Homo sapiens: one gene and its partners. The protein of the gene in region 7 interacts with the protein of the main gene of each other region in a biochemical or structural test. Each region holds a gene or a part of one and is shown on either strand. Other genes may lie near its edges. The genes, in order: POLR2M, SPATS2, SNURF, SLAIN2, JHY, SCEL and DAPK1.

Region 1 (4,264 bases), on a different chromosome or scaffold from region 7:
ACGCAAGTACTAAGAACTTGACAGGCCTTTCCAGTGGGACTGAGAAGAAACCTCATTACATGGAAGTGCTAGAAATGCGAGCCAAAAACCCAGTGCCCCAGCTGCGTAAATTTAAAACCAATGTGTAAGTACCCTCGGAAACAGGCCTGTAACAGGAACGTGATATTTGTTAAACTCAAAAATTTACGAGAAACTGGGTGTGGTGGTGCTTGCCTGTAGTCCCAGGCTACTCAGGAGGCTGAGGTGGGAAGACAGCTTTGAGTCCAGGAGTTGTAGACCAGCTTGGGCAATATAATAAGACCTTTTCTCTTAAATAAGTCAGGAGAATGCTCTAAGTTCCGTGGGCTTTGTATGAGAACTACTTGTAGTTAGGAAATAACATGTTGTGGCAACACTGAGACCAGCCTGGCCGGAGTAGAAGATTCATGTTGAAAAATATTTAGTTTTGAAACCAAATAATCGACAAGGTCTTTTAAAGCACATGGGGGAGTGTTAAATTTTAGGATGCTTAGCCAGTATTTCATAATAAACACAGAGTTGGAGAGAATTTATTATGACTTCTTTTTTTCAGAACCATTTTTTAGTGTACAGCTTTGATTAGTGTACTATCAAAGTGTACTCTCTTTGATTAGTCTGTGAACTAAGGGTAAAGCAATTGCAGGAGCTGATGGGCTTTCCAGCAGAAATTATTTGCATGCTCACTGTATGTAAGCAAGCAGCAGGTGTTGTGGGGACACAATTAAGTCAAGATTCTTAAAACTCCTTTGCCTTTTTTGATGTTAAATCTCAAGTTTAAAAACATGGCTGTAATGTATACATGTGTAATGTAATACAATACCATGTTCTTCAAGGAGTTTAAGAGCTACATGAGGACCCAAGGTTTACACACTTGGAAAAGAGTTAAGCTACATAATAATAACAGTTTCAGGGGGAAGGAAGCTGAGAAGAGGTTTGAAAAACTGTGAAAATAGATTCAGGCAGGATAGGCAAAAACTCTGCTTATCAGTTCCTTGCCATAAATTTGTTTCTGAAATTTCAGGAAAAGTAAAATCTTTTTGAAAATAATTGCTATTTACTTGCAGCAAATGTAACATTCAACTCAGGTAACTGGTACCTTCTTCCTATATTGTATTTACAAGTATGTAACATCAAAGTTAAATCACTACTACCTTTCTTTGAAAAACAGAAAACCTCTAGTGAAAAGTATCTAAAACATGCTTCTTTTTTGTTAGACTTTAATTCTACCCCAGCATTCATTTTAACCTCAAAACATTTTATTTCTGCTGTATAGAAAATCAGGATTATACTACATTAACGTGATCAAGTACTCTCTTGTGTACAGTGGGGTATCTTTCTTCACTTCCAGGATGACATTTTAGAAAACTAGAACCATCATCTAGTCAATAAATAAAACAAAGAATACATTAATCCCAGTTCTGTATTATGGTCATTTAGCTGGGAGTGGGAGAGAGGTAAGGGAATAGTGAAGAGGGCTACCAAGAATTCAGGAAGTTTAAGAGACAGGGAGCCTCCTGTATAAGTTAGAGGAGAACAGGAAAGGCAGGGCTTTGAGGAGTCCTTAGGCCATAGACAGGTAGGGATTGAGAGGGTTCCGTGTGAGAGGTGGCTTGGAGGTTGGAAGGTGGGGTCAGGTAGTGTCCTTTGGGTCCTTTCTGCTCTTCCTTCTGCATACTCTTCTGGCTTCATGTATCACCTGGATGCTGGAGGCTGACCCCTGTGCACCTCTATCCCAGATCTTCCCAGAACTTTAGGTTTGCATAGCCAATTAACCATGAAACTTGATCACTTGGGTGTTCCCAGGTACCTCAGCTTAATGATGTACAAAGTGGAACTGCAGTTTCTTTCCAAGGTGATTTCCATATTCCCTAATAGTGCCACCACCTTCTCGGTTTTCTTCCCCTAAGGTATCTTCGATTTTTCTCATCTCCATATCTGCTAGCCATGAAGACCTACTTATTTCTTTGATCTTCATCTCTATAATTGTTCTTCATCTTCTGTCGAAGTGAAGACTCTCATCTCTCTCGGGCTGTAATTGTGGCCCCTTCTACCTCTAGTCTTAACTACCAGTCTATCTCCACTGCTGCCAGAGTGAAATTTGTAAGATGGAAATCCGAACTTGTTACGGAGAACTCTTCATTGCAGTCTGGGCCTAGGCTACTTCCCAGCCCTCTTTCTCGCTGTCTTTTCTGTGTAGCCAGAAAAGCTGAGTCTGTCTACCTTCTGTACTTTCTCTCACTCCCCTTGCTGGGATGCACTTCTCTCCTTATTTACATGGGTAAGCAGTTATTATTCCAAGACTGTTCAAAGCTTTTTTGAAACTTTTCTTAGCCTCCCTGTCTCCCACTAGAACTGGCCATTTCCTTATGTTCCAATGTATCTTGTTGAGATATCTATCACAGTATCTCTGGTATTGTATTGCACTGAAACTTTACATGTGTATTTCTTTCTACTGGGCAATAAGCCCTTTTGCAAATGTTCTTTGAATAAATGAAAAAAAAAAAAAAAACTCCAGATGAAATACAAGGTTTGAATAAGGAAGGAAAAGGCAAAGAGCCTGTATGCACACAAACACACCCCTATTTGTTAGAGCAATGAATACTGGTAAATTACTTACTGTTACCTTTGGAGGAGAATTAATTGCTAAGGTAAAGGCCATTTGTGTGAATGTTTTAAATGTGTCTACAAATAAAATAATCTGATTGTATAACACAAGTTTTCCTTTCATCAGGTTACCTTTTCGACAAAATGATTCATCTAGTCATTGCCAGAAGAGTGGGTCTCCTATTTCCTCAGAAGAGCGGCGGCGCAGGGATAAGCAGCATCTTGATGACATCACAGCAGCTCGGCTTCTACCACTTCACCATATGCCCACGCAGCTGCTCTCCATAGAAGAATCCTTGGCACTTCAGAAACAGCAGAAACAGAATTATGAGGTATTTAGAGTATTTTTTTTCTTGTCTGTTTGTTGGGTGCTGCTTACATAAGCTAGAATTTACTCCAGGTTCAAGGAGGAAGGAATGGAATAGAGGGGATTAGGTGCTTCCATGAGCTCAGATCTATGCCACTAGTTTTCAGAGAGTCACAAAGTTGCTAGAACTGCAGGAAGTAGCTAGAGATGATCACAGCTACCTTCAACATTAAAGTGGTGATTTGCCTGGAGATGTGGGGAGACTTGTAGAATTTCATGTCTTAAAGCTCATTTACCTGCCTGTTCCTGTTAGGATAGTAGTAGCATCGCATCTCTCCCTTTCACCTTGTAAAACTCATGTGACAGCTTCTCAGTGGCGGACTCAAACCCAGACCCCTTGTTAGAGAATGAGGAGAATGTAGTTCCCAGGCTTCCATCTTCTGCAGTACAGGGGAGGGCATAGAAGGAGTGGGAGGATAATGTTGTGTAGCCAGCAGACAGTGAGACACTGCTTTAGAGCATAATCTGCAGGCCCATGTGAAGAGAGAAATATCTCCTGCTTTTGGCAGCTTAATCAATTTTGCATAGCACTTTGTTTCCATGTGTTTTGCATTGAACTTCAAACATGTATGTTGAGAGTTTGTATACAGAATAATGGGATGGGAGAAAATAAGTGTGAAGGACCATAGGGGAACAGAAAAGTTTAGAAGTATTTAGTAATAATTTTAGCCTCCAGGAGAACAGTATCCTGTCTCACTTCCTAGGTATTGATTAGCTAGATTTTAGTCAGGTACTAGTGCACCAACTAGTATAACACCAGACTGTTCAGGAGTTCGAGACCAGCGTGGGCAACATAGCTAGACTCCATCTTTACCAAAAAATTAGCCGGGCATTGGGGCATGCAACTGTGGTTCCAGCTACCTGTGGGGCTGAGGTAGGAGGATTGCTTGAGCTCAGGAGGTCGAGGCTGCAGTGAGCCGCAGTCACACCACTGCACTCTGTATAGCCTGGGTGACAGAGTGAGACCCTGTCTCAAAAAAAAAAACAACAAAACAGGCTGTTAATCTGCTTTGGCTTTTCATAAAAGCCTTGGCATGGATTGGCATTATCAAGGTGCTCTTTTTGAAAAAAACCATTTTTCTTTCAGTGCATTAAAATGACTGTCTAGTTATGGCTGTAGCATTGAGGAAGTGTTTACTGTCTCTGAGCTCTTAAATGCCTGTCCTAAGATATTTTTAGGTTGAATTAAACCCTTCATCTTTAAATTGTTTTTTTTTAGCAGAGAAGTTGTAGTGGTAATAGCTCCCACTTTTACTGACCCATATTCATGGCTTG
Region 2 (4,264 bases), on a different chromosome or scaffold from region 7:
TTTCAAAAAATCTTACATAAAAATCTAAGTTGTTATTGTTGCTAGTTCATTTACCTTTCCACCTTTCTTTACAGTATGCTAAAAATGAGGGAATATTGATGCCACATTAATACCTGATACCGAAATTAAACCACCTTTTCTTTATATGAAATCTAGCATATAACTTCTATTTCTAGCAATGTTCTGCATTTCTAAGTTTTGAAATTAATTTTTCACATGCTGTTATCACTCATCTATTAATCATTCCCAGTGAGATGCTTGTATGTACTGTCACTGACACTAAAGAGTGATACATATTGTTAAAAATGAAATATCACTCTTTTCATTATTCTCTGTATAGGCCTCAGCTGCCTAGTGACCTACTAATGTTAGAATTAAATGACCCTGTCATCTTTTCCAGATAAATGCGGTACGTGCAATAGTTCCTAATAAGAGCAACAATGAAATTATCCTGGTTTTGCAGCACTTTGATAACTGTGTGGACAAAACAGTACAAGCATTCATGGAAGGTAATCCTGACTTAATTTTAAAAATAAATTTATATTTGCTCAAATAGAATTTGCTTCAGACTTTTATAACATTCAGCAATCCAGTGATTCATAGATGATAGAGCAGACCCCATGAAAACATAACATACCATGACATTTGACGATACCTCTTTCAGCTGAAATAAGCTATGTGGTGTCTATAATAAGAGATAAGCTGAGAAAACTCCATTGTTTCACGCTAAATGTTCTCTAATGGTATTTAAGAGGAAATCATGTGGCCAGTGGTATAAGGGACTTGATTGGACTTGGGTTGAATAAGAATTTAAGAGACTCTTAATAACAAAGCAGTGATTCAGTGGCTCACCAACAGATGGCAAATTCAAGGACTCAGTATTGTCTTCCGGATTCTAATATCGTTAGTTTGGCTGTGGCAAGTGACTCAAATGTGTGGGTTTGAATTTCCTTATCTAATACGTAGAAGAATGGCAGGCTTAGTCAACCCTTCAGATTTATAACATTGAGAAGTGTTTTATGAACCTTCCTTCCATGTAACCTGTTGGAGAAAAACTATCTGAAGCTATTGCGTCTTTGAATAGCAACATGAGGTTAGGTCTCCCTGTTTTTATTTTCCTGAATCTGCCAACATAGGATGCACAAGTTTGAATGTTGTAAAGTTTTTCTTTATCTTCATCTTTTTAAAAAATAATGTTAGTGTTTTGGTCTAGGGTAATGTGCAGCTGTCTCCAAAACAACATAGCCAAGGTGGGTGTGTAACTGGAGGGGAAAGGATGGCACACTTGGCTAAAACCAGTGTGCCATCCCCTTTGTATTTGGTCTAAGATGTATGGATAAGAGAATCTTCAAAATGGCCCAGCTACATTAGTCTCTTCTTAGAAGAACTTACTGAGGAAATTACTCGGAGAGGAGGGGTCTAAGTAGGCAGGTATTCCAAAAGGGAAGCATGGCATGATTATCTCATTACATTACTTTAGACCTGATCCTTAACTTTAACTTTTCTGTTAGGAGCTTTGTAAATTCTCCAGCAATTACAAAATGGGAGGACACTGACTCCTGCTTGACTACTGTGTGTGTGGTAGGAGACAAAATCTGTAATTGGTTTCTCTTACAGGTAGTGCCAGTGAAGTACTCAAAGAATGGACAGTAACAGGCAAGAAAAAGGTAAAATGAATTACATTTAAAAGCATGATGATGTGTATATTATTTTTAAAAATTTAGGCTCTGCAAAAATATTTGAAAGAAAAGGTTCACATACATATCTTCTGTTTACCTGGTTAAAAAACATCTTTGGCCAGGTGCAGGGGCTCACACCTGTAATCCCAGCACTTTAGGAGGCCAAGGCAGGTGGATCACTTGAGGTCAGTGGTTCAAGACTAGCCCGGCCAACATGGTGAAGTCCCGTCTCTACTAAAAAATAGAAAAAATTAGCCAGGTGTGGTGGCACGTGCCTGTAATCCCAGTTACTCAGGAGGGTGAGGCAGGAGAATAACTTGAACCCAAGAGGCAGAGGTTGCAGTGAGCCGAGATTGGGCCACTGCATTCCAGCCTGGGTGACAGAGTGAGACTCCATCTCAAAAAAAAAAAAAAAATTCTTCGACCTTGAAACATAGCTGTGTCTCACAGAGTACCACACAGTCCTCTCCGTGTGATTTAAGGCAGGAAACAGAATGACTTTGCCATGGTGCAGTTATTAGACGGGTGAAAAAGACAGCAAATCAAGGAAAGCAAGAGAAAGCGATCTAATTGAGTGGTTTTCAACCATATTCATACCATAAATCAGTTAAAACAGTTCAGATTTTTGGTCGGGCAACTGGGTTGTAGTCCTGATATTAATGAGCTTTGACATAAAGCTGTTAGGTGCTGGCCAGGCACGGTGACTCATGCCTGTAATCCCAGCACTTTGGGAGGCTGAGGTGGGAGGATCACTTGCGCCCAGGAGTTCAAGTCTGGGCAACATGATGAAACCTGATCTCAAAAAAAAGGCTATTAGGTGCCTTGCAGAGGGGTCTGATGTTCCACTTTGAGAGGTAGAAAGCACTCAGGCTATGGGATCAGTCAGAACTGGATTCCTACCCTGTTCCACTATCTACTGGCATTGTGACTGATATTGCTTAACATTTGTGCCTTAGTTTGCTCATCTCTAAAATAGAAAAATAGTTCTAATAAATACAAATACATAATACAACGCCTAACATATTAGTTCTCGTTCCTTTCTCCTTATTTACTTAAAATCAGATGCTTTTCCCAAAGGATACCAGCTGGTCTCAAAATTCTTCCCACAGCTCTGCACTGTAAAGGTAACCCCTTTAGGAAATGCTTGAAGTATGGATTTTAATCAAGTATCTCTGTGAAATCTGTTTGGGGTGTTCTTTTCTTTATTAAGTCAGTGCTGGAGTTCTGAAATGCTTTCATCATGACTCTTACATCACTTTTTAGGAGTCCTGTCAGGTCTTGAACAAAAACCAGGCTTGGCCTCAGTGACGCTTGAGAATTTTTTCCAAGGGTTACCTAATACTACACAGATTCTTCTGAAGCTCTTCATACCTGTAGTTTTGAATATTTGTTTAACTTCTTCCTGCTGCTTTCAACCTGTTACATAGATAACTGTGAGTGTCCTGGAAAACACCAGTTTCTTTTTTTTCTTTTTTCTTTTTTTTTTTTCTTTTTGAGATGGAGTTTTGCTCTGTCGCCCAGGCTGGAGTGCCGTGGCGCGATCTCGGCTCACTGCAGCCTCCGCCTCCTGGGTTCAAGTAATTCTCATGCCTCAGCCTCCTACGTAGGGCGGGACTACAGGTGCGTGCCACTGCGCCTGGCTAATATTTGTATTTTTTAGTAGAGACAGGGTTTCACCATGTTGGCTAGGCTGGTGTCGAACGCCTGACCCCAAGTGATCTGCGCACCTTGGCCTCCCAAAGTGCTGGAATTACAGGCATGAGCCACTGCACCCAGCTAACACCAGTTTCTTAATTTATTAGCCCAGGATTATAAGTTACTAGTGATATAAGATGTGCATGGACCTGGAAGAGGATGTGTGTTAGAGACACAGACATTCCTTAAAATTTGGAGAAAGAAATATGACTTCAGTTTAGCAGTCCCAAATGCACAAATCCAGTCCAGTCCACTTAACTGTTGGGATTAGTCCAATAGGATGTGACTCTGAGTGGGATAGTTATGATATACATGACCCAATGATATGAAAACTTAGCCAGTTCACATGGGGGAAAGTAAGAAAAAGAAAGATGAGGCCGGGCACGGTGGTTCATGCCTGTAATTCCAGCATTTTGGGAGGTCGAGGCAGGTGGATCACTGGAGGTCAGGGGATTGAGACCAGCCTGGCCAACATGGTGAAACCCTATCTCTACTAAAAATACAAAAAAATTAGCTGGGTGTGGTGGCACATGCCTGTAATCCCAGCTACTCGGGAGGCCAAGTCAGGAGAATTGCTTGAACCTGGGAGGTGGAGGTTGCAGTGAGCCGAGATTGCACCATTGCACTCCAGCCTGGGCAACAAGAGCGAAACTCCGTCTTTAAAAAAAAAAAAAAAAAAGAAAGAAAGAAAGATGAGAGCTGTTAAGGCAAAAAGTTTATCTAGAGTTCAATCATGTTTCTGCTGGAGAGGGTCACAGAAAGGACTTGGGGAAAAATTGATTCAGTTATTATCAGCCTAGCCTTAGGAATAGAATTAGGTGTTGCCAGTGGAGCTACGAGTTTGACAAAACAAAAGGTAAAGGACTTTTGTTTGTTTATTTTAACTTTAC
Region 3 (4,264 bases), on a different chromosome or scaffold from region 7:
GAGAGGACATCGTGATGGCTCTTCCCGACTAAGGTTGAAAGGTGTTTCAAACACTGGACCTCTTCATCTTCTGGGAGTTGAAAGCTGCAAGTTTTGTGCTCAAAGAGAATAAAAGAGAAAAGTGGAGACAATCTTATTGGGGTGGGGTTGTGCTTTGGATCAGTTACTGTCTTTTTTTGGATTTTTAAATTAATGATCATTTTTGAAGTTGGAGCTACTACAAAAATTTGGTGAGAAAGGTTAATGAATAACTGCATTTTTATATTCCAGTACTTTTTTAAAAAATCATTTTATTCTAAGGATTTTGTCTTCCTTTGCAGGATTTTCAGTGCTTGCCTTTTCTGTATTTACATTTTCCCTCTATCATAACTGGTATGTCTGGTTGCACTGAGTTGTAATTAACAGAAAAGTTAAATCTACGAAGCCCGAAAAGCCTTGTTCTGGAATAATCTATTTTTGGGTAGTTTTAAAAATAGCAGGAGTCTGGGATTTTATATGATATTTATAATTTACCCTTTTTTTTCTGCTTGCATGAAGATAGCAGTTCACATACATATATTTCTTGGTTTAACTTCTGGTCATTTGGCTATTTGCAAGCTGAGTATTTAGTCTGATCCGCCATTTTGTAGTCTTGCATTCAGGCCCGGGATCCTAATATGGCAGATCCCTTTGGAAAGGCCTCTTGAAGTTTCAAGGTCTGTGTCCTACTCAGTGAATTGGCTCTGTGCTAGGGCTTTTTGGAGGCAGGGAGTGGCAGCCCTTCCTGTGATGCAGAGGAAGGAAGCTTGGTTGAGAGACCCTTATGTTGTTGTCTAAGGCAGGGTACTAACTGATTTGGATTTATTCACAGACCTTGCCTTATCTTGATTTCACTATTCTATCTGACCAGTGTGTCATTGCCGAAATGTTTTCCACATTTATAGTTACTCTGTATCTTTATGTTTCCCTTACCCTGTTCCTTTTCCTAATAAACATCTTTGTTTTACAAAAAATTTTGTTTATAAGGTGTCAAGGATGCCAAGATAACCTCCTTTGTTTATCAGCGCCCTCTGTTTAGCTATTTTTTAGGAAGAATCATTTAAGCAGGTTGTGAGTACTGCCCTCAATTACTTGGACAATGAAGTTTTAAAAATCTTATTTAGACCTGTCACTGGTCCTGTCTCCTTTTTTTTTTTTTTTGTGGCCCAGGGCCAGAAAGCTTGAGTGAGAATTGTTACTACTTAAGGTAGCCTCTCTCCATTTCTGGATGCTAGCTGGCTCAAAGTTTTTTTTTTTTTTTTTTTTTTTTTTTTTTTTTTAAATAGACCAGGGTCTCCCTATGTTGTCCAGGCTGAACTCGAACTGCTAGACTCAAGCTATATCCTCTCCCTCCTCAGTCTCTCTCTGGCCACTGTGGCTGGCCCAAATTCTCTTTTTGTTAATTCTCCTCAGATTTGTTTTGGAGGCAATGAGGTTTCTTATATTCATGGGGTACAGATTAGCAGCCTATCATTAACCTTATTTTTTTGTTTTTAGGAGACAGGGTCTGGCTATGTTGCCCAGGTTGGAGTGCAGTGATGCAGTTATAGCTCCCTGTAACCTCAAACTCCTGGATCAATCTAGACTCCTGCCTCAGCCTCCCAAGTGCCTGTTAGTACAGGCTTGAGGTACTGTGCCCAGCTAACTTTTTATTTTTTTGTAGAGAGGGGTCTCCTTATGTTGCCCAGACTGGTCTCGAACTCCTGGACTCAAGCAGTGCCCCTGCCTAGGCCTCCCAAAGTGCTGGCATTGCAGCCATGAGCCGCTATACCTGGCCAACTTTGTTTATTTTTATTCTTGAGATCTTAGTTAAATTTTATGGAAAATTTAGGCCGTAATAAAATTGGGATTCCATTGCTTTTTGCTTTTCAATATATTTCCGGATTATTACTTTCAGTGTAAGTGATCTGAGGGCAAACATTTAACACCCTTTCTATATGATGATTTTTTCATGATGTCCTCAGTTTCATAAAATGTTGGTTTCTGTGTTGGGGATGCAGTTAGATAAATGCATGTGTGTGTGTATCTAGAACATTCAATAAAGTAGTGTTTTCAAAATCTTATAGATGACATTTTATATGTAGATTAAAAATAAGTAGATTTAAGCCAGGTGCGGTGGCTCATGTCTATAGTCCCAGCACTTTTGGAGGCCAAGGCAGAAGGATCACTGGAGCCTGGGAGTTCAAGCTTGGGTATTGAGACCCCGTCTCTACATTTAAAAAAAGGTAAATTCAGAAAGTTGAAATAATAGAATATTTTGGTTTGATGGCTATTTCCTCAGTTGACCTCAGACCTTTCATATTGAGCAACTGCCGAATGGGTTCTTTTTGTTTTTTGGTAAGACAGTGTTTGCAGTTGTACACTATTAGATTAATCATGGTTTAGTTGATAGTTTCTTTAATTGTATTATATTAAGGTACTACATTATTAGCTGTATTTGTGTGCCCACCATAATGTAGCACTGATCAGTACTAAATTCCTTTTTATGGCTGAAAGACATTCGTTTGGATATATCATATTTTCTTCATTCGTAAGTTGATGGACATTTGAGTTGTTTCCACTCTTTGGCTATTATGAATAATGCTACTAGGAACACGTATAATACGTTTAATACAAAGAATTAGTTTCACAAGGTTTTACTTAGCCCTCGTATATGCCAGGTTCTTGAAATTTTGTCTTTTTGGAAGTATGAGAGTAGTGGTAGCTGGGAAGGCTGCAGGTATAATAGAAAGAACATGAACTGTCTGGGCATGGTGGCTCATGCCTGTAATCCCAGCACTTTGGGAGGCCGAGGTGGGTAGATCACCTGAGGGCAGGAGCTCGACATCAGCCTGGCCAACATGGTGAAACCCTGTCTCTACTATAAATACAAAAATTAGCTGGGTGTGGTGGTGCATGCCTGTAATCCCAGCTACTTTGGAGGCTGAGTTTGGGTCTTGTAATATTACTTCATCTAGCAGTAGAGTTAGTGTCATATGTTACTTTCATGATTAACATTTTTAGGAAGTTGGCAAAGTCTATATATAACACTTTATGTTTCCACCAGCAGTTTCCCCACATCCTTTACAAATATTGTGGTGTCAGATGGTGGCATTTCAGTGGGGGTTTTTTCATTTTGAGGCAGGGTCTGGCTCTGTCACCCAGGCTGGTGTGCCAGTGGCATGATCTCAGGTCACTGCAACCTCTGCCTCCTAGGCTCAAGCGCCCTCTCACCTTAGCCTCCTGAGTAGCTGGTACCACAGGCATGCACCACCACACCCAGCTAATTTTTGTATTTTTTTGTATAGATGTTGCCCAAGCTGGTCTCCTGAGCTCAAGTGATCGCTGGCCTCAGCCTTCCATGAACCATTGCGCCCTGCCTCATTGGGATTTTGATTTGCATTTTTTAGTGACTAATGTTCAGCATCATTTCATATAGATTAGCCACTTGTATGTGTTTGGAGGACTGTCTATTCAAGTGTTTTACCCATCGTAGCAATAGAATTTGCCCTTTTATTGTTGAGTTGTGAGAGTTCCTTACATATTCTGGATACCAAACTTGAAAAAATACTTTTTTGAGGTGTGAGTGACATACAAAAGCTGTAGATAGTTAATGTTAAAAGTTGATATGCTAAGAGATAAGTACATGCCTTTGAAATCATTCTTATCAAAATTAGTGGCATAAATGTGTCTGTCACCTGAAAAAGTTTCTTTGCCTCTCCCTACCTTCTTTTTTTTCATTGTTTGGATTTTCTTTTTGTTTGTTTTGGATACTAGAAACTTAGCTGTATGTTAAGCAAATATTTTTTCCTATTCTGGTTATCCTTTCACTTTCTTTAGTGTTTTCGGAACTTTATTTTTTGATGAAGTCCACTTTATTTTTTATACTGCTTGTAATTCAGGTGTTATATTTAATAGACCATTGTGTAATCAAAAGTAATAAACATTATCAGTGTATAAAATTTTACCATTTAGAAATCAAATATGTGTGTATGGCTTGATTAGAACATTTAAACTCTTGAAAGAATAAAACAGCTGTGCGTTATTGGTAAGCTATTTTACCAATCTAAAAGTCTAACATGACTTAAAAACATCTAGGGTTCAGAGAATTATTAATAGCTTTTGGCATGTATCTTTGAATTTTGCTTTTGAGATATTACTTGTGTTACTTTAGTGAAAGGTCCTGCTGACCTTTCTGATTTATCATCTTTAAAGGTTCATAGGTGGTTTCTGCAGTCCCTAATATGGCTAGTCTGGTGTGGGATTT
Region 4 (4,264 bases), on a different chromosome or scaffold from region 7:
CAAGAATATGCAGCCACCACGTCTCGGCGCAGTTCTGGTTCATCTTGCAATTCTACAAGACGGGGTACTTTTAGTGATCAGGAACTTGATGCACAAAGTTTAGATGATGAAGATGACAATATGCATCATGCAGTATACCCTGCTGTTAACAGGTTTTCACCATCACCACGCAATTCACCTCGACCGTCACCTAAGCAGTCACCCAGAAATTCACCTCGTTCACGATCTCCTGCTCGGGGAATAGAATATAGTAGAGTGTCCCCACAGCCTATGATTAGCCGCTTACAGCAACCTCGCCTTTCACTTCAAGGCCATCCCACAGATTTACAGACAAGCAATGTTAAAAATGAAGGTAAAATAGCAGATTTTACTAATAATTAGACAGTTTCTGCTAGCCTGTGTAACATAGCAAGACCCCGTCTCTAGGAAAAAAATTTTCAAAATTAGCTGGGCATGGTGGTGCACATCTATAGTCCTAGTGACTTGAGAGGCTGAGGCTGGAGGATTGGTTGAGCCCAGGAGTTCAAAGCTACAGTGAGCTGTGATCACACCATTACACTCCAGTCTGGGCAACAGAGCAGGATCCTGTTTTCAAAAAAAAAAAAAAAAAAAAAGTTTCTAGATTAAAAAAAGAGAAAAAGTGTCCTTTATATTTCACTATGAAAGTAATACAATTTTTGCTAAGTTTTTGTATTTCAGATAAGTAAATCAAGAGTGTAGTCAGGTTTACTATTTTATTAATAGTGAATCATTACAAAAATAAAAGAGAAAGTGAATTTCATTTTACTTGGTTATGTTGTTTTTGCTTTATTGTTTTATGAAGTTACCTGTATTTAGATTTTGCTTTAAATATAAAATTTGTGGTTATCTTTAAGTGTTCTCTTATTCTACCCACTTAACAGATCCTAGATCGAGTTGTTTGTTTTTTTTAATAAGACAAGTCCTTTGTATTTTCTCATCTAAAATAAACAGAATGTTTGATAAACAATTTGATTTTTGAATGCTAGTTAATATTTTAATTTTCTCCATCTGAAAGAATATGATTTTTTTAAAATTAAAATTCTGTTGCAGAAAAACTAAGACGCAGTCTTCCAAACCTGTCCCGAACATCTAATACACAAGTTGACTCAGTGAAAAGCAGCAGAAGTGACTCAAATTTTCAAGTGCCAAACGGAGGAATACCTCGTATGCAACCTCAGGCTTCAGCCAGTAAGTATCCTTCTTATGCTTTCATGTATCAGTTATTTAAAGAGAAGTGAAAATTTTAGATATTTGTTTTATGCTGAAAAACCGTTTTTTATGCTGAAAAACCGTTTTAAACCATAGCTATAGTAAAATTTAGTGTTTATTAGTTGCTGGATGATAATCAAAGTTATATTACAATTTAAAATTTTCTATGTAGGATACTTGATTCTGCCAGTACATCTGTCTATACAAAACTCTGGTCTCTCCAGAATTTTAAAATAAGCAAAATGTAACTATTAAAAAAGTAGGTGTAGCTTTTGCTTATAGATACTAGAATTAGAAATAAAAACCAGTAGAGCATCCAAAAATATATGTCCCTTAGTACGTAAATTTTCTTTAATAACCTCCACTTTAAAAATACCTAAAAGTTTGATTATTACATAATTTTAGAATCATACTCAAAATAATCCATTGTTCAAACCTGCAATATATTAAATCTGTTATCAAAGTTGAATTGTTGAAGTTCTTTTCTTTCCAAAACAAAAGTATACCAGGAGAACTCTTGGATGATCTCATTTTATTTCTGCATCTGTTGAGATAAGATTTCTGGTTTTGATTTGATTTTCTGTGTTTGTTAAGGCTATTTTAATGAAAAAATACAATATTGAATCAATATGTATGCCAAATTAATTCATAGTCCTAATCCTACTTATAGATTAAAATTTGAGATAAATTGCCAGAAACCATCACTTTTTAAGAATTGATCAGGACTTGTCTCTTTAAATTATCTTTCAGAAAACAAATTCTTAGAGTTAAAGCTAAACTCTTAAACAGAGAAGGTGAATTTTAGAAGTATAGTAGAAAGAACACATGTAGATTATAATTTTTAATAAGTTTTGGTCATTGGGTGGTTACTAACCCATGAATGTGACAGTATTTGTATTCAACTATTATTTGTAATAGATACTTGAGTTTTTATTTTGTGGCAAGTAGTATGTTAAATCAATACAGGCATTTCTACTATAGCACAAAATATGCACTCCTTAAAAACCTCACATTCTGCAGTATTACACAATAAAAATGATAGGATGATGAGGAGTGGAGGGAATAGTCCTGGAACAGACCACTGAAAACCCAAGCAACTTTCTTAGAAAGCATTAATAAAAACAATAATGATACTAGCACAGTTAAATTCATGTTAAATCTTTATTAAATACTCCAGGAGATATAGAACTTCATTTTTAAAGAAAGATTTGAAGGTAATGTGATGGAAAGGAAAGGTTGAGACTGTTGAATTAAGGAAACATATGCAGCATAGACGAAGATCAGAGAGAATCATACAGTAAGATCATCTAGGACAAAATAGCCAAACTGAGCCAAGAAGTAGTGATGTTGGAGTAAATGGGCATTGTGTATATTAATGTACAAGTTGATTTTAAAGGAATTTCAAAAAATTACTTTTTAGCTAGGATAGATTTGAGCGTGTAGTCAAAACGGTTTTAAATAAATGATTACAGTTATTTTTATGATCTTATGAACGCTCAGTATTCATCCCATGTGTTTCACAGCTCACATCAGTCCCGTATATGAGCTCTGAGACACAAAGGGTGCATATTCACTGGGGTCCTTGTAGGGACACAAGGGATGCTTATTCACTCAGATCCTTGTAGGTACACAATGGATGCATATTGTCTCAGATCCTTGTGGCATATTACTATCAGTGGTTGAAGTGGTAGCTGTGTTATATTCTTTCATTTTCTCAAGGCTATGAAGAAGTGATACAAACGAGTTTGTTGACTGTTCACTTATAACTTGTTTATTAAGCAGTTAAAAATTTGAAGATATTTAACCCTTTTTTCATTTTCATCTTTTTTTTTCTTTTTTTTTTGATTGAGTCAGGGTTTCACTCTGTCACCAGGCTGGAGTGCAGTGGCACAATCATGGCTCACTGCGGCCTCACCTTCCTGGGCTCAAGTGATCCTCCTGCGTAGCTGGGACCACAGGCGTGCACCACCATGCCCAGCTAATTTAATTTCTTCACACTTTTCCTTGGCCCTGTTGTGTTTAGCTGACTTCATATACTTCATGTTAAGCTGTTGTTACTTAGTGGCTCAAAAATCAACAGGCTAGCAGGAGTTTGAGACCAGCCTGAGCAACACAAGACCTCGTCTCTAAAAAAATGTTTTTTTTTTTTTAATTACCCAGGCATGATGGTCACATGCCTATAGTCCCAGCTACTTAAGAGGCTGAGGTGGGAGGATTGCTTGAGCCCAGGAGTTTGAAGCTGCTGTGAGCCATGATCATGCTGCTGCACTCCAGTCTATTGAAAGAAAAAAAAAAAAAAAAAAAGCTACGAAAAAACTATATTTGAATCAAAATGACTTCTGTGATATATTGACAAATTTTCCTTATTTACAAGGTGCATATGATATTACTTATATAACAAATTTATATTATACTGTATTTAGATGCATAATCTTATTTAATCCTTAGAACAATTCTATGAAGGAGGTACGATTATTACCACATTTTACAGATTAGAAATTGAAGCTTTGAATGGCCAAATAACCTATCTCTGATTATACAGCTTATAAGCGGCAAGTTAGAATTTAAACCCATGTTGATTCATCTTGAGCACTGGATCTCAATAGGTGAGAGTCCAAATTCACCTAGTGAGAGTTGTCACATCTATGGTTTAGACCATGATATAAAACTTATCCAGAAATATAATTTCCATTTTTCCTAAGATTTAAAATTCTAACGTTTAAAGCACTGTAGAAAATTGGTACCCAGAGATTTGTAAACCACATTTATTCAGCTAGATATATGCTAAAACCTGTTTTTATAGCAAATTACATTTTAAACTTAGTACTCCAAGTCTTATTGTGAACTCTGTAACTGAGAGTGCCATTATAATACTCACTGTAGTACTAATAAATAGTATAGAAAACAGGAATTCACAAAACACTTGAAAGGAAGGATAGAATTTGAGCTTTATCTTTGAAATCGTGAGTGATACAGATTAATTTGACACTTGAGAATATCCTGTTTCTGGCTTCTTTTTTCCCCTGACACATTT
Region 5 (4,264 bases), on a different chromosome or scaffold from region 7:
CATTGTACTATGATATTCCAAGGGCTACAGCGTCACTAGGTGACAGGAATTTTTCAGCTCCATTACAATATTGTAGGACCTCAGTCGTATATGTGGCTTGTCCTTGACCAGAACATTGTTAGTCAGTGTATGAAATGTATTACCAGCCAAAGTGTGAAACATAGTTTTATCTTCACCAGCTGAAATACTGAGTCATTGTTGGTGTACGTAAGTAATCGCATTCATTGAACCACAGTGATTATTTGTTTAACATTATAGATATCTGTTTTTCAGTTGTCTTCTGACACTTAGAAATTAATTGTCCCCCATTTTTATTCCATATTTCAATGAACTTGGATAATTAAGGCCTTTCGCCCTTATGTGTAGTGTGTGGGTCTAATTTGGGCCTGGGATCTGTCTTTATGTTTATTAATCAATTAATTTATTTATTTTAAGAGACAAGGTCTCACGCTGTCTCCCAGGCTGGAGTGCAGTGTCGTGATTATAGCTCACTGTAGCCTCTAACTCCTTAGCTCAAGCAATCCTCCCACCTCAGCCTCCTGAGTAGCTGGGACTACAGGTACGACACCATACCCAGCTAATTTTTTAAAAAAATTTGTTGTAAAGATGGAGTCTCGCTGTGTTGCCCAGGCTGGTTTTGAACTCCTTGCTTCAAGCGATCCTCCTGCCTCGGCTTCCCAAAGTGTTGGGATTACAGGTATGAGCCACTGCACGCTGCTGGGATTTGTGTTTAGCATACAGATAATAAAAGGAAAACTATAGGAGAAAGACTGAGATTGATTTCAAATAAAATGTTCAACTGACTATAATGAGTGAATTTATTTCAACTAAGGACTTGGCATTTCTCTTCTGCTTTGGGCAGGCAACAACCAATAGAAGACAAATATTCAGACCTCCGCTATGACCCGAACTGGAAGAGTAAGAAGGAGGAAGGGCAGCTGCTGTCTGTGGAAGCGTTGCCGGAGTCCACGGACAGCTCTTTAGAAAATCTGCCTTTGGCTCCCCTCTACCCTTCCCAGGAGACGTCAATGGAACTCTCCGGGGGAAAAGGCGAGCAGAAAGAGAGTCCACAGAGTGCAGCTTCTTTACTTGGTAGTGAATTTTTAAGCCCAAACTATGAGCATGGTGCCCGTCGCAGCAAGCCGTTTTCAGAGCTGAGCGACAGTGACCTGGAGGAGAAGTCGAGCAGCCTTTCTCCGTACGTGAAGAGCTCAAGTTCACATAACGAGGTTTTCCTGCCGGGATCACGTGGCCCTCGGCGAAGGAAATCCAAACAACATTTTGTGGAAAAAAACAAGCTCACTTTGGGATTACCCACCCCGAAAACGGACTCTTATCTTCAACTTCACAATAAAAAAAGAGGGGAATCTCATCCAGAACAGGTACGTAGTGGCTACTTTAAAATGTCTTCTGAAACATTAAACCAGAATTTGCGTTTGTTTGCAGTGTCTAGATATCGCTTCCTTTAAGATGACGATGTCATAGCAGCCACCTAGCTGGGTAAAACAAACGCTTCCATAGGCTATCCTGTATGTTTATGTTTATTCCATAAATTCTTATGACCAAAATAAAAGCCACCAATGGTTTACAGTGTAATTGCTACAAGTCGATTATTGCTATAAGTCAATTATTATATCCAAAATTGCTATAATTGCTATAAGTAATTATAAGTCCATTGTTATGTCAGTTATTATATCCGAAATTCTCCATTCAAAGAAATCTGGAACTTTTTAAAACTGTGTTTTCCAAATGATAAAATATAGAACTTAAGCATTTGATTCCCTGTGTTGATTTCCTTTGTTACCACCATAGCAGAGGTTTTCAACCCTGTTAAATGCCCCAGCACATTGTGGGTGACATGGAACATGCCCCAGCTCACATACAGAAGCGATTCTCAACTCAGATTCTGTATACATATTGGGCGGTCGGGGAGTGGGTAGGGTACAACATAAGGTGGGTTTTTTTTTTCAATCTTCAGATGTTTCTATAAACCCCATTGAAAATCACATCATTTGTTATTGTCCTGTGTAAATGATATGATATGATTAAACATTAGTCTCTTTATTTGTAAAATTGGGACAGTAATAAATGCCTTCTCTTCCTCATCAGGTCATTTTGAGAGTAAATTCTCTCCCACGTGATGGATTCAAAACCTTTTGGAGCCAGTAAACTTAGTTCCATTTCACAGGTGCACATAAAGACCTTCCTGCCCACCTCCTATGGACATGTCCAGGGATACAGGACAAGAGTGGGGTTAGAATGGTAGAGTCCACCACTCTTACTGGAAAGAGCTTGAGATTTATCACCTGCTAATGTGAGGTCATTTTCAAATACAAAGGAGAGGTTATTATGTTAAATGTGGTTGCCCTTAGACCTATTCCAAATCCCAACTGGTATTTTTTTTTAACATATTCTAACCTGTTCTAACCTCTAAGCATTTTCTAATGGAACAAAATAGATGAGGTGGATGAACATTTGTGGCTTTTCTTCAGAGACTCCCTTTTTTGTCTTAAAGAATTACGTCTGGTGGCACGTTGGCTCATGCCTGTAATCCCAGCACTTTGGGAGGTCGAGGTGGGAGGATCACTTGAGGCCACGAGTTCAAGACCAGCCTGGCCAACATGGTGAAACCCATCTATACCAAAAATACAAAAATTAGCCGGGTGTGGTGATGCACACCTGTAATCCCAGCTACTCGGGAGGCTGAGGCACAAGAATCGCTTGAACACGGGAGGCAGAGGTTGCAGTGAGCCGAGATGGCGCCACTACACTCCAGCCTGGGTTATAGAGTGAGACTCTGTCTCAAAATAAATAAATAAAAATAAAAAAAGAATGATGTCTGGTGAAATTTGGGCCTAAAAATATTTTAATTTAAAAATAAAAATAAATAAAATTCAAAAAAAGAATTATGTCACATCTTTGCCACTGTAACTAATAATTAAATGAAATAGGTGTAGTATATATAGCTGAAGTATTTAAAAAACTAGGTGAATTCAAGCAGTTTTTAGTATTTTTACCCAATTTTAGATGTTAGTATACTCTTGTTCCATAAAACTTACATGAAATTTTGAATTTTGCTTGATTGCTCATTTAAAAATGAAAATAAATTCAACAGTCCAATATCTTTGAAAAAAAATTTCTTTTGAGTCAGGGTCTGGCCTTTCACCCAAGCTGGAATGCAATCGCACGATCATAGCTCACTATAACCTCGACCTCCTGGGCTCAAGCAATCCTCCTGCCTCAGCCTCGGCGAGTAGCTGGGAACACAGGCATGCACCACCACATCTAGCTAAATTTGTTTTTAAATGTCTTTATAGAGATGGGGGTCTCATCATGTTGCCCAGGCTGACCTCAGACTCCTGGGCTCAAATGATCCTTCTACCTTGGCTCCCAAAGTGTTGGGATTACAGGCATGAGTCACCATGCCCAGCCTGAAAAATGTTTATAGCCAGTAATTTATCTCAAACTAGGACAATATTTTTCATTATTAAAAAGTGTTCTCAAAAGAAGCTGATCCGGAAGGAGAACATTTGGGGGTTTTCTTCATTCAGAAACTCTCTTTTTAGTCTGAGGTCAAAAGAAATAGTTTTATTTCCAATAATAAAAGGGAAAAATATTTATTATGAACTCTTTAATTGTTGATTTATTAATCGCTATTTTTGTTAGTAGTTATAAGTTAATTTACTAAACAATTTTAGGGTGTATTGATTGTCAGTGATTCCACAGCTGAATTTTCTTTTCTTTGTGCCATGGAGGAAACTTTCTTTAAGCTCTTATATTACTCTCTGAAGGGGCCATTGACTTTTCCCACCACTTTCTCCAAGTTCAAATATCTAAAGGCTAATTGTATTTAAAATTGTTCCTTTACCATTTTCCAATATATATGTACTTCTTCTTGCTCCTATTATTTTTTTAAGAGATGACTCCTATTATTTTTTTGAGACGGGATCTTGCTATGTTGCTGGAGTGTAGTTGCTATGCAGGATTCGATCATCACACACTGCAGCCTTGAACTCCTGGGCTCAAGTGATCCTCTTGCCTTAGACACCTGAGTGACTGGGACTATAGGTGTGCATCACTGACCTGGCTTCCTATTACTTTAAAAAGAATAGAGATGAGTTTGACCTAACAGTGACATAATGATATGTGTAACTTAGTGAATTCTAGTCAGTAGCATAAACTGATGTGTTTTTTTTTTTGAACCGTTATTCATATGTAGACGTGTGTGTGTCTCTCCTCCCGATACAGATTATATGTTCCCTAT
Region 6 (4,264 bases), on a different chromosome or scaffold from region 7:
GGGAAATCTTTATTGGTTCCATATGGCTTCGCTTTCTGTCATTGTCCTGCTTCTAGACCATTTGTTGATCATTTTCCATTTTCTTTGGCTGGGTACTTTGAAATAAAGATTTTAGGTATTAATTGCTGCATACATAGCTGGAGTTGTTCAAAGCTCACTTCTGAATCAAAAGTCTTTTTTTTTTTTTTTTTTTTAAATGGAGTCTCGCTCTTTTCCCCAGTCTGGAGTGCGATGGCACAATCTCGGGTTACTGCAGCCTCCGCCTCCCATGTTCCAGCGATTCTCCTGCCTCAGCTTCCTGAGTAGCTGGGAGTACACGTGTGCACCACCACACCCGACTAATTTTTCTATTTTTAGTATAGACGGGGTTTCACCATGTTGGCCAGGCTGGTCTTGAACTCCTGACCTCAAGTGATGTACCCGCCTTGGTCTCCCAAAGTGCTGGGATTACAGGCATAGCCAATGCGCCCGGCCTTAATCAAAAGTCTTTATCAGTTATATTCCTTAAGTGTTTCCAGCTTACCATTGTACAAATGGTAAACTGTGATTTTTTTCCATGAACTTGTGATTTTGAAGCTCGGGAGAAGCTCTTCCTCACATGGATGCTTTGCCAAATGACAGCTACACGTACTAGACTTTCATTTCATGTCGATTACTAAATTTTTTAAGGACATGAGTCATCCTTTTATTGTGATACTTAATTGGAACAGTGAATTTTATAGCTACCTATTCAATGACAACTGGTTTACTTCTAGATACAAGAACTGATCATCCTGAATCCTCCTTGTAATAGTATACTTGATAGCTCTAAAAATCTGAATAATTTATTCTTTGTCTGTAGACCCAAGTTTCCCTGACTCTAAAATGTGATTACGTATCCTTCATATGAAGCCTCCTGGGGAAAGACAGTGAACTATAAGCCATATTTTCCAAACTGAGATATATACATCCCAGGAGACTGTGTCAATGTTCTAGAAAATGCAATAAAATTATGAAATAAGCATGGCACATGTCTGTATGGAGAGCTAATTTTAGTTAAAAAGCTTTGGAGAAAACTATCCCTATTGCCCTGCCCTCTCCCCAGTTCTCCCCAGGGTTCCCTCTTTTGTCATTAGAGATGCTGTGTGTAAAAGTTTAAAAGAAATTTATATACAAATGCATGCAGTGAGCTGAAATCTAGATAGACTTGAATTTGAACCATGATTCCATGTGGACAAACGGTGACATGTATGAGTATGCCTAACTCACAGCACCAGCAGATAAAAAGAAAAATTAGGATTCTTGATGAATAATTAATAGACATATAAAATTATGTAATTATATATTATATACATATTTTATAATATACATAGCATATTACATAATGGGACATATATGTATAAAATATGACTCACAATAGCACAAAAATATAAAAATCTAGAAAAAATCTCTACAAGAAAAATTTAAAATCTAGATTTAAAAAATAACAACATTTTATAGTAAGACATAAAGGTGAAAGCGGACCTTAAATGTCAGTTCTTCCCAAACTCTTTTTATAGAATCTATGCAATTTTAGTCAAAAGTTCCAATAGAATATTTATCTTGGAAACTTAGAAAATAATTTTTTTTTTTTTTGAGACAGAGTCTCGCTCTTTCACCCAGGCTGGACTGCAGTGGCTCTATCTCGGCTCACTGCAAGCTCCGCCTCCCGGGTTCACATCATTCTGCCTCAGCCTCCCGAATAGCTGGGACTACAGGCGCCCACCACCACGCCCAGCTGATTTTTTGTATTTTTAGTAGAGATGAGGTTTCACAGTGTTAGCCAGGATGGTCTCGATCTCCTGATCACGTGGTCTGCCCGCCTCTGCCTCCCAAAGTGCTGGGATTACAGGCGTGAGCCACTGCGCCTGGCTGAAACTTAGACAATAATTTTAAAGTTATCTGAAAGAAAGGAATAAATGAGAATAGCTGATAGAATTTCTAAAAAGGAAGTTAATGAAGGGTGCTGTGCTACTAGATATTAAAAATGTATGTATCAGAAAAACACAATAATAAAAGTAGCTTGTTTTTATTGTAAGAAACTAAAGACAGTTTTCTTGAGGAAAACGGATAGCCACAAAGCACATTTAAGAATATGTAAGAATTTAAAGTGTGACAAAGGACGTATCATATATCAACGAGAAAGGGATTTATTCTCCCATTACCAAAGTAAATCCACATGGATTAGAGAGATTACATAAAACAACAAAATATATTGTAAAAATTAAAAGAAAAATAAATATTTAGTTAACCTCATGTTTGTTCAACAAATATTCCTCTAGAACTGATTATGTACCAGGTACTGTGATAAGTTTTGAAAATCAGCTGTGGAGAAGATGGGCTTGGCCACTGCTCTTAAGATGTACAATGTGTGAATGTGTGCGGGTGTGAGTATGTGTGTATACTTGTGGGTTGGGGGTGGGGGAAGATTATTCAGCCATACACACAGTCTTAGGTGATGTTATGGAAACTCTTTGCTATTTGAACACATAGTAGGGCTCATAACTCAGCCTGGGGAGGAAGGAGTGGGGCAAGTGGCGATGGTATCACAGAGTGATTCCTGGAGGATATAGAATGTGTGATCTGGAAGGTGAATGGAAGTCTTTCCTGAAGGAAAATGAGGGGTTGAGGGAAGTTCAGGAAGAAGAGTGTTTCAGGCATAGATAGAATAAGCAATAGCTCACAGGTGATGAAAAGGATGGAGCCCCAGGCACTGGAAGGAGTTGCTGTGGCTGAAGCCAGAGTGTGAGTGGGAAGTGGGGAGTTGGGGGAAATGAGGCTGGAGGGTATGGCCTTGTCAGCCTTGTTATCAGTTCGATTTTATCCTGACAGAAAGGGAACACCCTTGAACGACTTTAAGTAGGTGATGACTACTTTGGCACCAGTGAGGAGGAGAGTGGATTAAGTGAGGAAGTCTGGAGATTGAGAATGTAGCTGGGAAGCCGTTGGAATAGTCAGGAGATTATGGTAGTTTGAATTGGTGTCTTGCAAATAGAAAGATACACAAGAGATGTTGAATTATAGGACTTGACGATTGCTTGGATTTCAAGGTCAGAAAGAAGATTGATGGATGGTCTACAAAGATGGCTTTTAAAGAGTGAAAGTGGAAGAAATTATAAAGGGAAAAATAGGGAATGCAAAATCAAAAGCTTCTGATACAAAATTTATAATTAGAAGCTAAATGAAAAACTAGTAAAGATGAATGTTCCTGACATATAAAGAAAATGAGAAATCAGTAAGAAATATATAATAATTGTCAATGGATAATTTATAAAATAAGAAAGAAAATGCCCTGTAAAGTGAAGAAAAATATGCGAGTAAAACAAAATGATTCTACTTTCACCTATTATATTATTAAAAAGATTAATGAATGATAATTCTAAATGCTGGCAAATGAGTGAACACTCATATGTTGCTGGTGGATGATAAACTACTATAAGATTTACGGAAAGAAACTCGACAATAGGGATCAAGAATATTTTAGAAATTATACATCTTGGCAAGTAATTTCACTTCTCGGATTCATTCAAAGAAAATAATCAGATACTTGGTGAAAGACTTTTGTATGGTTTTTTAGAAACAACAGAGGAATGATGTTACATTGATAAATAAAATGAGATATTTTGTAGCTGCAAAATAAATATTTAAATATTCTTAAATGGCATTGGAAAATGCATATCAGTAGGCTCTAAATGGGCAAAGAAAAACCCTGGAAGAAAATTACAGTGATTGATTAAAGGTGTCTGATTTTTTTTTCCTTTCTTTATGCTTTCTTGTATTTTCCACATTTTATATATGCTTTCTTGTATTTCCACATATGTTCTAAATATAGTGAGAAAGATTTATGTTGTGTAAAATTGGGATACAGAACAGCTACATGACAGAGCTTTTGTGAATATGAAATACAGTAAAGTATTTAAGATAACTAACAGGGTTTTGGCTCATAGTCTGTGGTCAAAATTTGAGTTTTTACTCATTTAACTTGTATTTTCAGCTAGAACTGAAAATAGCCCCTGATGGGGCTCAGGTGATAGATAACTTTTATTGGATAGCTTTTTTATTAATGAATATTAGACCAGTGTTTTTTGTAAAATGAAATAATTATAGGCCACTATTCATGTTAAAGCTTGCTGTTATCATTCTGCAGAAAAGATGGGCTGTAAGAAAAAGAGCTGGTGAGGGTTGTGTATTAAAAACCAGAATCAGGCCGAGGCAGGCGGATCACGAGGTCAGGAGTTAGAGACCA
Region 7 (4,264 bases):
CGGTTTACTGTGGATTGCAGGAGTCAGTCCTATGAATAATGGCAACCCTGTGTGGCTCATAGAAGGGGAGAGACTTTCTGGCATGTTTTTTCTTCAGAAATGGGAACCGCAGGCCACCGGTGGGTTTCTGCATCCTTATAGGACTGTGCTGAATGTGACATTTTTCCTCTTAGCATTTTTGACTCAGAATGCTCTCAGATGTTTCCTCTGATAGGAAAGGGTCCAAAGTTTTAAGAGAGATAAAGTTCAGCTACATAGATTAAAGGCAACGGTTAGTGATTTTAAAAGTGTGTACATTTTAGGAAGGTCTAATAATAATTTTCCAGGATGTGAAGGGAAAGCATGATGGTGTTAGTAAGTGGCAGTTTGGTTGAATGCTTGCTTGCTGGCACTGGGAGTGTGTTGCTGGATTACTAGGGCAGGCATCAAATTTAGGTTCAAGGGGGCCAGGAACAGAGTAGGTGGAGGTGCTTATTGGTCGGGAAGCCAGGGAACATGGAAGCTCACTTCTTGGTCCCCCATGCTCTTTTACCCTCAGCTTGTGTCTCCCCGGCCAATGAGGAAACTGAAGGCCCCATATCATTGGTATATGCCTCTGCAAAGCCATGAAAAACTCATAAGAAACCTACAGAGATGGATGTCCAGATAAATTCCAGTGCACTCATCCCTCGGTATCCATGGCGGATTAGTTCCAGGACCTCTGGGGACACCAGAATCCACAAATGCTGAAGTCCCTTATATAAAATGGCATAGTATTTGCATATAACTGATGTAATCTTCCCATATATCTTAAATCATCTCTAGATTACTTACAATACTTAGTACAATGTAAATGCTAACTAAATAGTAGCATTATAATGTTTAGGGAATAATAACCAGAAAAAAAAGTCTGTATATGTTCAGTACAGATGCAGTTTTTTCCTGAATATTTTTGGTACAAGGTTGGTTGAATCCATGGATGCAGAACCCACAGATCCAGAGGGCTGACTGTAGTTGTATACAGGTGTTATATCAGGAGAGGCAACATTGGCTCTTCCACCTTGTTCTCTTCCCTCCTAGCAGAGTTGTAATCCAGACCACTTCTTTCCAGATGATTAGGGGTGAGGGGCTGAGCTGCTGGATATCTGATATCTGGGAGTGGCATGGTCAAGGTCACATTGCCTGACTCAGCAGGGAAATGTGTTAGGAACTTTCATCCTTCATTCTAGCCAACTGCCATGAGTACCTAACATTTTGTATAAATTAAGTGAATATTATTTTAGTAGAAATTTATTTCTGATTATGAGACAAAGGAAGCCACTCTTCTGACAAGAGGGGAGTGGTTTCCATTGGGGAAGAGTACCCCAGAGAGCTCAGGGACTTTGTTTGTTTGTGTCTTTTTGTTTGTTTGATTTTGTTTTGTTTTTTTGAGACGGAGTCTCACTCTGTTGCCCAGGCTAGAGTGTAGTGGCGTGATCTCGGCTCACTGCAACCTCCGCCCTCTGGGTTCAAGTGATTCTCCTGCCTCAGCCTCCCAAGTAGCTGGGATTACAGGCGCCTGCCACCGTGCCTGGCTTATTTTTTGTATTTTTAGTAGAGACGGGGTTTCACCATCTTGGCCAGGCTGGTCTTGAACTCCTGACCTCGTGAGTCACCCTCCTCGGCCTCCCGAAGTGCTGGGATTACAGGCATGAATCACTGTGCCTGGCCTTTTGCATTTTTGGAGACGAAGTCTTGCTCTGTTGCCCAGGCTAGAGTGCAGTGGGGCGATCTTGGCTCACTGCAACCTCTGCCTCCCCAGTTCAAGTGATTCTCTGTCTCAGCCTCCAAATAGCTGGAATTATAGGCATGCATCACCATACCTGGCTAATTTTTTTATTTTTAGTAGAGGTGGGGTTTCGCCATGTTGGCTAGGCTGGTCTTGAACTCCTGACCTCAAGTGATCCGCCCGTCTCGGCCTCCCAAAGTGCTGGGATTATAAGCGTCAGCCTCTCGCTGTGCCTGGCCGGGACTTTGACCTGGAAGAAGGCTGAGTGACCAGCATTGCCTCCCTTCACATTTTATCCACCTGTGTTTAGACAGGTCAAGTGGCTTTCTCCAGGCAGCTGATTAAAAGGTGGCAAGACATGGACCCAGAACCCAGGGCCAGGCCTATTTCATTATCTGTGCTATTTAGGATTTGGCAGTTTTCCATCTTTGAAAGCCAGATGAAGTTGATATTTAAGAGAGGTGAAGTAGGCAGCCATTTGGCGCCAATTTATTTCAGCATCTGCATGGAGAAAATGGTTAGGGATAAATAGTAGACCCTTCATGGAAGGTTTTCATTTGAAGCCCAGCCAAAGGCAACAGGGTCTGCCCTTTGAGCTCAGAACTTTCGCAGGCCTTAACGACACACTGGGACCTTCTTTCCTTTTCCAAATGGCTTCAGCCTTGCAGTTTGGAATGATGTCAACATGTGGCGTAGTTTTATTCAAGTCCCAAGTTAATGGTTTACCTTTTTAGAAAACTCCAAAAACACTTTCATTGTTATTTAACTTTTGAGTTATGTAATGTCTAAGAGTCTTGTCTCTGACCCGTGCACCTACCTGCCACTGACCAACAGTTTCTCATTTCCTTACGCAACAACTAGTCTGGCTAGCTTAGAGTTGGTGTGTGATTGTTTGAGACTTTATGTGGAAGATAATATTTAATTGTTTTGTTCTGGTTTGTTGGGGTAAATTATACAAATGGAATGCATCCTTTCTCGGCCTTGAAAGAGGTTATATGACAGTACAATTATAATAAATTCAGTGTATGACTTTGGGTACATTCTATTATAAACGAATTTTTTTAAAGGTGCAGTTAGAAGAAGGTGGAAGAAAAAAGAAGTTGACACTCCGATTTTCCACATCATCTAACTAAAATGGATTTAAACTAACTTTCTCTAACTATTAAATCTTTCTTAGGTAAGTACAGTTGTATCCCAGCTCTAGAGTTAATGTGCTGGGTGGGTTTTTACAAATAAAAAATCTAAAACCTAAAATAGTTGTGTTTTATCTTCTGTCCCAATCCAAAACAAAACAAAACAATCATGTGATAGTAACTAATCTCTGGAGATACCTGACAAGCGTGGTCCAATAGTGACGCGGGTTTGTCACTTTGGTCTTTAGGTGACATTGACAGCTGGTGTGGCATATGGATCACACTGTGGTCATTGAAGTATAATGTTGCTTACTTCTGAGAAGTGATCATGGGGCCTTTTTTTTGAGACGGAATTTCGCTCTTGTTGCCCTGGCTGGAATGCAATGGCGCTATCTCGGCTCACTGCAACCTCCGCCTCCTGGGTTCAAGCGATTCTCCTGCCTCAGCCTCCCAAGTAGCTGGGATTACAGGCATGCACCACCACGCCTGGCTAATTTTGTATTTTTAGAGGATTTCTCCATGTTAGTCTGGCTGGTCTTGAACTCCTGACCTCAGGTGATCTGCTCGCCTCAGCCTCCCAAAGTGTTGGGATTACAGGCATGAGCCACCGCATCTGGTGTTCACGGGGCTTTTACCTTATGTACTACCTTTCGATGTTTCAGTTGTGAGCTTGAAAAATTTTATTCAGTAACCTAACATATAATTAGAGATGCCAGAGTGGTGGGGAGGGGAGGGAAGGAGGTTGGGAGAATGTTGTTGATTTTTTTTTTCCCTTTATAAACACATACAACTTTGGACGAAGAACATAATGTTTGAGCAAATGAATGCTTGTAAACTGCCGATCTCTGAAGTGTGAAAAGTTTATATTGATGGCACTTATATTCATAAGCCTGATGGGTTTTGGCTGGGAAATTTGGCTCGAGGTACGGACTTCTTTTGGGACACATTTTATTTTTCTGTCAAAACTGCCTGATTATTCTTATTTAGGAAATATGTGATGAATGAGGCTGGCTGGCAAATATTTTAAGTGCAGTTGATATTATAAATTTTCACCTACAAAAATGAACTACTTTTCATTGTTGAATAGTTATGTCTTAGTTCATTGCTTTTACTTTTGAAACTGTATAAACTTTTCCCTTTTTTTGGAGACGGAGTGTCGCTCTGTCACCCAGACTAGAGTGCAGTGGCATGCTCTTGGCTCGCTGCAACCTCTGCCTCCTGAGTCAAGTGATTCTCCTGCCTCAGCCTCCTGAGTAGCTGGGACTACAGGCACCCGCCACGACGCCCGGCTAATTTTTGTGTTTTTAGTAGAGACGGGGTTTCACCATGATGGCCAGGCTGATCTGGAACTCCTGACCTCAGGTGATCTGCCCTCCTCGGTCTC

The links.
Region 1: the proteins of DAPK1 (region 7) and POLR2M form a complex in vitro, tested with the Homo sapiens proteins (one large-scale study listed by BioGRID and IntAct).
Region 2: the proteins of DAPK1 (region 7) and SPATS2 form a complex in vitro, tested with the Homo sapiens proteins (one large-scale study listed by BioGRID and IntAct).
Region 3: the proteins of DAPK1 (region 7) and SNURF form a complex in vitro, tested with the Homo sapiens proteins (one large-scale study listed by BioGRID and IntAct).
Region 4: the proteins of DAPK1 (region 7) and SLAIN2 form a complex in vitro, tested with the Homo sapiens proteins (one large-scale study listed by BioGRID and IntAct).
Region 5: the proteins of DAPK1 (region 7) and JHY form a complex in vitro, tested with the Homo sapiens proteins (one large-scale study listed by BioGRID and IntAct).
Region 6: the proteins of DAPK1 (region 7) and SCEL form a complex in vitro, tested with the Homo sapiens proteins (one large-scale study listed by BioGRID and IntAct).

What each region holds. Positions count from the first base shown.
Region 1 is NC_000015.10:57,709,235-57,713,498, forward strand, and holds part of POLR2M (protein GRINL1A), read left to right. Parts: coding exon 1-124; intron 125-2,749; coding exon 2,750-2,954; intron 2,955-4,264. Other genes in the region: GCOM1 (GRINL1A combined protein), read left to right, coding at 1-124, 2,750-2,954.
Region 2 is NC_000012.12:49,489,065-49,493,328, forward strand, and holds part of SPATS2 (spermatogenesis-associated serine-rich protein 2), read left to right. Parts: intron 1-400; coding exon 401-509; intron 510-1,617; coding exon 1,618-1,667; intron 1,668-4,264.
Region 3 is NC_000015.10:24,957,223-24,961,486, forward strand, and holds part of SNURF (SNURF protein), read left to right. Parts: intron 1-1,515; exon of another isoform or gene 1,516-1,646; intron 1,647-2,102; exon of another isoform or gene 2,103-2,243; intron 2,244-4,264.
Region 4 is NC_000004.12:48,382,576-48,386,839, forward strand, and holds part of SLAIN2 (SLAIN motif-containing protein 2), read left to right. Parts: coding exon 1-352; intron 353-1,071; coding exon 1,072-1,209; intron 1,210-4,264.
Region 5 is NC_000011.10:122,903,063-122,907,326, forward strand, and holds part of JHY (jhy protein homolog), read left to right. Parts: intron 1-862; coding exon 863-1,382; intron 1,383-2,109; coding exon of another isoform or gene 2,110-2,169; exon of another isoform or gene 2,170-2,848; intron 2,849-4,264. UniProt on the Homo sapiens protein: Required for the normal development of cilia in brain ependymal cells lining the ventricular surfaces.
Region 6 is NC_000013.11:77,537,942-77,542,205, forward strand, and holds part of SCEL (sciellin), read left to right. Parts: intron 1-4,264. UniProt on the Homo sapiens protein: May function in the assembly or regulation of proteins in the cornified envelope. The LIM domain may be involved in homotypic or heterotypic associations and may function to localize sciellin to the cornified envelope.
Region 7 is NC_000009.12:87,504,006-87,508,269, forward strand, and holds part of DAPK1 (death-associated protein kinase 1), read left to right. Parts: intron 1-4,264. UniProt on the Homo sapiens protein: Calcium/calmodulin-dependent serine/threonine kinase involved in multiple cellular signaling pathways that trigger cell survival, apoptosis, and autophagy.